2 linked regions of the Homo sapiens genome follow. The protein of the gene in region 2 purifies or fractionates together with the protein of the main gene of each other region. This does not show direct contact. Each region holds a gene or a part of one and is shown on either strand. Other genes may lie near its edges.

What was found.
Region 1: the proteins of NUP188 (region 2) and HEATR6 fractionate together in Homo sapiens (co-fractionation; one large-scale study listed by BioGRID). This does not show direct contact.

Annotation. Positions count from the first base shown.
Region 1 is NC_000017.11:60,072,103-60,075,921, forward strand, and holds part of HEATR6 (HEAT repeat-containing protein 6), read right to left. Parts: intron 1,785-3,819; coding exon 1,644-1,784; intron 1,178-1,643; coding exon 1,062-1,177; intron 228-1,061; coding exon 113-227; intron 1-112. UniProt on the Homo sapiens protein: Amplification-dependent oncogene.
Region 2 is NC_000009.12:128,992,545-128,996,363, reverse strand, and holds part of NUP188 (nucleoporin NUP188), read right to left. Parts: intron 3,168-3,819; coding exon 2,961-3,167; intron 2,840-2,960; coding exon 2,670-2,839; exon of another isoform or gene 2,330-2,669; intron 1,992-2,329; coding exon 1,922-1,991; intron 1,509-1,921; coding exon 1,441-1,508; intron 1,046-1,440; coding exon 850-1,045; intron 1-849. UniProt on the Homo sapiens protein: Component of the nuclear pore complex (NPC), a complex required for the trafficking across the nuclear envelope. Required for proper protein transport into the nucleus.

The sequences.
Region 1 (3,819 bases), on a different chromosome or scaffold from region 2:
TGTATTTCTCTAGACGAAGCTAATGGTGCAAATTAAACTCGTTAGTAACACTTTTCCAATCTGCTTCTAGACACATCCGCAACATTCACTACGTCAATGATAGTCCACTTACCATGCAAAATGTGATATCATCCATATCAGATGATTTTGGAGACTGTAAAATAGTCAGAAAAGCTTGGAAACAGACATTTTGGTAGGGCTCCTCCAAATACGGCTGTCCTGGCACACTAAACGCATACAGAGAAAACAACTCAAACTCAGTCTCCTTTAAAATGAGGCTTGCAAAAGACTAATTAAAAATAGCAGTAATATAGACTATTAGAGTTGGAATATACCCTTGAGTGCAACTATGCTATGGAAAATTATTATTTTGGTTAATTAGTTACTGCTGGGGGACAGGCACAGGGCTAGAATGAATATAGAGGAAGGGTGGTTTCCATACAGAAAGGTTACAGAAGTTTGTGGTAGAAGAACTATGGAGAAAGAAAAATCTTGTTTTAGTTCTGCTGTTCAGTCCTAGGAGGGAAATAATCCAGACAGGTCCTGTCAAGCTAGAATCACACATCTGTACCTGCCTTCCTACTCGCTGGACAGCACTGTGCTATGCAGAGACGAGTTCACATTTGTGCTGCTCATTGTCTACTGCCTACTGTGAGAATCGAGGGTGAGCAGCTGGGGCTGTTTCCATCTTCTTCAAAGAAAAGAAATTGCCCTTTACAGATACATCTCACCAGCACTTAAAATTTGCATGAATATATCCTTCTAAAAACTTAATATGCTTAGAATTTATATCAATAGAAAACAAAATTTTGACATACTGCACATTATGTCACTATTACCACATTTTAGGAATATGGTCCTAGTCTATTTTTTCCTTCTTTACAAGCAATACTAAAATTAACAAACAACATAAGATGATTTTATTAGTAAAGTACATGGGAAATGCAAAGTTAGTTATTTGTCTAAGTTGGCTCTGGCTTCAGGCACAGGGAACTACCTACAAAGGGCCCAATAGAGGCACTATCTTATTACCATTGAGAAACTTGACTGGAGCCACATACCTGAGACATAAGTTTGCCATACAATGTACTGCAGCTCTCCTGACTTCAGGATCAGACTGAGCCAAGTCACTCAACTTCATTAAGAGTCCGGTGTTGCCTAGCAGCTCTGGGAGGTACTAAGAAAAATAAGAGTCAATGTAGGTCAAAGAAAAGCTTCTAGGAAAATATTATGTTTTAGACAGATTTCTTCTTTCTTTTTTTAACTAAATGGCAGTTAAGCACCAAAAGACTAGCTGTTAGATAAATGTCTCCGATGGATATGCAAAGATATGCCAAAAAGCATCAATAATGATCATTACTCCCAGCCTAGGTAGCTGCTGATGCTCTTTAGTGTGGCCGTATGGCTGATGGGTAATGATAATATTAAGAATAATGTTTACTATTTACCGAGGGCCATGAACTTGACACGTATTGTCTCACTTCATCCTCAGAGTAACTATTTTATACATGAGGAAACAAGGCCCAGAGTGGTTGAATAAGAATTGCTAGAGATTAGTGGCAAGATAGAAACCTGAACACAGTGTTGGCACCAGAGTCTGTGCTCCTGGCCTTTCAAAGGAAGGATAAAGCACTTTAAACTACCTTTTGACATTTGGAGCCATTGCAGTACACCAGAGCTGCCAGGGCTTGAAGAATTTCCCTGTGTGTCCAGGAACTACACTGATGAATAGCCGAAATAGTATATGCCAACAGGAAATCCAAGTGCTGTTCATCAACAATTACCTAACAGGACAGGAAAAGATATATTCTGATCTAACTTTTAAAAAATATTATGCTTTTATGGACATGTATGCTCACCTGAATCAAGCTGTATAAAAGAGAGAGTGTGTGTCTGTCGTTTATGTGTCAAAAGGATCACCTCTAAAGGGCCTGAAAGTTTGATCAACGTAGGGGCCTTCTCCCCACCCCAAGGTCTTGCTCACTTCTTCCTCTTTAGTAAAGTAGAACTTGATGAAGTCCTTGTAACTTTTCCTTGAACTAACCAGACATTGGCAGCTGTGAATACACAGATATGAGTATTTCAACGCACTGAAATTTAATTAAACTGCCTTATACATAATAAACACTCAATGAATACACAGTGAACCAATATAACTGCTAAATACCTACTGCATCTCTAACATGACATGAGGAATACACCATGAAGAGAGGGCATATCCCTGCTGTCAAGGAGCTGATAATCTTGTTGGGACAGACCAGGCTAATCCAAGTGTCAATTTATGGACAATTGAGACAAACTGTCACCAAGTGCTGGAAAGCTGGTAAAGGGTTATAGGTGCCACAGGTGATCAGGAACATCTCCAATTGCCAGTGTTACAAAGATGATACACCTGAGAATAGTAAACATACAGAAGCTACCTCATGTTAGTTTCAAAGATTCTAAACTGAAAACAGCCTTACTCCATGCAGCAGACACTGTTGGTTACCTACTAGCATCCATTTCTTCCTTCCCTGCTGGCAGAGTACTAATTTAATTGGATGTCCACCTCTCCCATGTGAGACCTAAGGGTAAACGCTAATTAGTTTAAGAGAGTGGGGCAACCTGGGGCAACCTTAACCCCCAAGGAACATTTGGCAATGCCTGTATACATTTTTGACTGTCACAATTGGAGAGGTGCTACTGGCGTCTAGTGGGTAGAGGCCAAGGATGCTGCTAAACATTCCACAATGTGCAAGACAGCCCCTAAAACAATGATCTGAGCCAAAATATCAATAGTGCTGAGGTTGAGAAACCCTGATGTAGGCTAACTGTGGCTGCACATTGTAAGCATCAAGGGAGCTTAAGTCCTCCTCCAAGTGATTCTAATGTGTAGTGAAGGTTGAAACTACTAGCTGGAGCCATTCACAATAAGACCATCCTCCTGCTTAAAGACTGGTTTAGAGAGGTATTTATATGACCTAAGTCTCTCCAGCAAGATATTGGGGAGTCTACTAGAGAGTTCATGGGACACGTTTCCTTACTGTTAAGTACAAGAGACACAACATAAAATAAAGTTAATTAGCTTCTGCTGAACAGTAATCATTTCTTTGGCATGGGATGTCCAGAATTGGCACAGCCATCTTATGACTGTGAGACATGCTAGCTGAGGATAACCCACATGCTGAGGACGGTGAAGGGAAAGATGAGCCTCTTATTATTAAGGGGCTACAGATGCGTCCCTTGGGACTTGGGACATGGAGTGATTCCTTTTTATTTTTTTAAAAATTGTTTAGTGACTCTGGGATGGCTTTTCTGCTTATTGCAGCCAAAAGCATCCTAATTCACATAATGCTAGTTGATATGTTTTGTGCTCTTAAATATATTCACATACTCATGTGGTAACAGTCTTAAATAAATAACTGGGGTCTTTTTATCCTGCTGTCCCCTTGGCCCCAAGCTACTTCTTATATTTTAGAAGCATCAAAAGTAGACCATAAAAATGGTAGCTTCAGGAAAGGGGAAAAATATTGGTGGGAAAGAGGCAGGGGATTATTTCAATTTATTCTTAGATATATTTTGTTCAAATATATCTTCCATAAGAAATTATAAATTAGCCGGACGTGGTGGCGGGTGCCTGTAGTCCCAGCTACTTGGGAGGCTGAGGCAGAAGAATGGTGTAAACTCGGGAGGCGGAGCTTGCTGTGAGCTGAGATCGCGCCACACTCCAGCCTGGGCAACAGTGTGAAACTCTGTCTCAAAAAAAAAAAAAAAAAAGAAATTATAAGGTTGGGGGGCCTGAATGATATTGGTTTACTGAACCAAACAGAAAGGCATACT
Region 2 (3,819 bases):
AGCCTGACCAACAAGGTGAAACCCCATCTCTACGAAAAATACAAAAATTAGCTGGGCGTGGTGGCAGGCACCTATAATCCCAGCTACCTGGGAGGCTGAGACAGGAGAATTCCTTGAACCCGGAAGGCGGAGGTTGCAGTAAGCCAAGATCGCACCACTGCATTCCAGCCTGGGTGACGGAGCAAGACTCCGTCTCAAGAAAAAAAAAAAAAAATTAATCTGGATACCCCAAGAAAGAACACTTCAATACCAAGTCCTTATGATACAGCGTGACGGAGTCAAACCACAAAAAAGCCAAGAACAATGCATTTCTTCCAGATGTTATCTCTCTCTCTCAAAACCAACTCCCAGTAGACAGAGTACAGAGACAATGGCCTCTGTTCTTTTTCTAAGACCAGGAAATGCAGTTTCTAGAACCAATGACAAACTGCTTTTTAGAGAGGGTGCTGCTGCAGCTGTCACAGCTCCCTGCTGACTAGTCAACAAGTATTTATTGACCTAGCATCTACAAGGTACACAGCACGAGAAGACAGTTATGCCTTTGCACAAGAGGCAGATGCAGCCAGGGAGCAGCTAAGACCCAGCCAAGGCCTAAGGGAGGTACAGGAGGCTTTAGGAACTCTGAAAGGATTTCAAATCACTTCTCTGCATTCCTCTTAATGGTCTCCTGGACCCAACACCCTCAAATACCCCACAGTCCCAATCTCTCAGCATAGAACCTATTACAGTTTAGCTCTCAGGGATAAACCCTGATTAATTCTTCCGCACAAGGAGCTGTATCTGCTAGGCTCATGTCAACACATCATTGCTAAGGTACCAAAGTGAAAACTCTCCCCAAAAGGGTCTTACATGAGTGGTGGCAATGATGAGAAGCATCCTCCAGGCGGACACCAGCATCTGGTACTCTAACAAGGAGGTGCAGCTGCTGCCTTCTGTTTCGGCCACGTGAACTGCCAATGACTTGACATACCCTGACCAGTAGGCAAAGCGTTTCTCGATGGAAAATTTCTTCAGTGTATCCTTTAATGACTGGTCTAATGAACCCCTACAGTGTCAAGAAAAAACCTCCAGTTAGATTTTGAAAGCAGATGGGAATATAATGGGTACAGACCCTTGTTGAGGCAGAGAAAACGACCTTGCATGGGCTTAAAGGCAGACGGCTCCAGGACACCTCCAACGTGTGGGTTAGGCTGAGGCCTTTCCAGGATTCCTCCTCCATAAAATCCCAGTTGCATGGAGTTTGCTTCACAATAACTCTTTCTGACAATCATAAATGCCATCGGTGGATTGGCCAGGAACACAGCTCACTGGCCTTCCATGAATGGTTCCAAACCAGTTCTCTCCTCTGCCTTGGCTCTTCCAGCCATGCACCCAGTGGTAGGCCACCAACTCCCACTCCCCCAACCTTCAGTTAAAATCTCAAGAGGGGAAAGTACTCACTTTACTACATAGTATATCTCCAAGCAAATTATCTTCATGATTAGGGCACAGGTTTCCAGGATGCTGGGCTGTGGAGATAGCAGAACAGGCAATTATCACATCTCTGATCACTGATCTCCCCCAGTATATCAAACAGGGAACAGAGCAGGGGCCCAACACTTGCAGAACAAGTTAGCACAACCCCTGTTGAATGTGAATGTCCTGACTTGCAAGAGCAGAGGCGTCAGGTCCACAACGTCTCCAACTGAATGGAGAAGACCACAGAGCCACCAACACACAGTAGCGCAAACCACTTTCCTTCCCAAAGCAAGACATCAAAGGGACAGAAAGCTGGCACTTCCCTGAGAAAGACGTTTCTAGTGAAGGGAACATTCTGTTGTTTAATTAGGGGAGGTATCATTGTCTACGGCCCCATCTCACAGCCCACAGCCTTTCCTCCAAGGGACTTGTAGCCACCATCCTGCCCTCTGCCACAGCTTACCTCTGATGTTTCAGAGGGAGGAGAAAGGGTTCCAAACAGCGGACTGGTTAAATTTTCCCAAAACTTGGGTCTAAAAAGGAAATAAATGTTTGAAATCATAACTTTTTCCCTCTCACAGTCATTTTCTCCTCTCTCAAGCTCCCTTTGGTGGTCACTTCATATTTTACCAGTCTCAATCCTAATATGTGTCTGATAAGTCAGTTGTTCCCGTATAAATGAAAGGTTTCCATAGATAAAATTACATTTTCCTCTCATGAATCACACTTATGCATTATAGAGTTGATCAATAAAAACTCTTCAAGATTCCTTCCACTGTAGATTCCCAAAAGCCCCACAGAAGAGGAGGGAGGGAAATAAGACAGCAGACTCCCAAATTTAGCCTTTTAACACTCCTTCCCTTTGTGCCAGCAGGTCCAATAGAACGGAATGTTTCATTCAATCCAGTGACTTGAGCAAGCGCCTCTCTCCTGAATCTACTGTTTCTCAAGAATAATGAGTTTTGATGCAGCTAGTTAGCAAAAGGCAGGAACACAAAAGCAACTGAACCTTCCAGGTGCTTAATATTTAAAGATCCTTAATACTTGCAGCAGCATTAGAAAGAGAATTAGTGTAAAACTCCCAGGTATTGAACCAGGACTAAGCACTCTTATTCCCAGTGAACTGTCACAACAAACCTCTGGGATAAGAGCTATTATTACTCCCATTTTATAGACCAGAACAATGAAACTACTCCCAGAGGCAGACTTACTTGGTTCGGAGGACCAGCATGGCACTGTCCCTCCGATCCTGCCACAGAGCATGCAAAAAGGCAATGGCGGCACGATGCAGCAGGGGTGGGCACCAGTATCGATCTTGCTGTTGGGAATCAATCAGCTCCAGCACTGCATGGAGACAGCTCCACATCCCAAGGCTGAATTCCTGCAAGAAGGGACAGGTAAGAGTTCAGTTCCACAGCCACTGCCAGCAGCTGTACTTGCAGAGCCCAGCATCTGCCTCCCAGTGAGCCAACTCCCAGTGTCATCCCAGGTTACAGGCTTACCTTTGAGCCATCACTGCCATCCTTAACTTCCAGGTTCAGAAACAGTTCGATGAGGCCTGGCTGGGTCTCTACTGCAACAGTGAGGAACTCTAGAATCATGACTTTGATGCGCATGTCCTCAATTTTGCTCTGCAATCGGGTCAGGAAGGCATCACGAATGGCAGCCGCATCATTGCCCAGACAAGCATACACTGACATTGGGGCCACCTGGTGGAGACCGGAACACACAGGCTTAGAGCTCTGCTTCCACAAAAACCTCAATGGGCTCCCACAGAAGGGCACTGAAGAGCTCCCAGAAAATTGGCAGAAAGGGAAGCATCCAGACTACAGCTCTGGGCTAAAAGGGACATCACCACAAACAAGCATGAGATGCCCGCAAATTCACAGGAAAGACAGTAATCAGTATAAAGAAATGCTCAACTTCCCTCATGGTTAAATAAATACAAACTGAAAAGTGAAACATTTTTTTGCTTATTAGATTGGCAAAGACTAAACAATGATGAAGACCTTGCAGCAACGATAGAATACTTGGTGTTATAAGTATAAACTGTTACAATGTTTTTTGGAAGGTAATTTGGAAATATCTAATAAAAAATATCATGTTCATTTATACCTACATAAATCTTTGGAACTGTAAACAAATGTTTACAGGGTGGTAGGGATAATAATGTTCACTGCAGCACTGCTTGTAATAGTGAAAGACAGAAAGTAGCGCAAATAAATCAGGATGCATCCATTCTAGGATGTGATATGCAAACATTAAAAAGAATGAAGGAAGTCCAAATTAAAAAAAGGAAAAAAGACAAAAAAGAATGAAGGAAGTCCAAATGTGCCTATGTGGCATGAAGCACATCAAGAC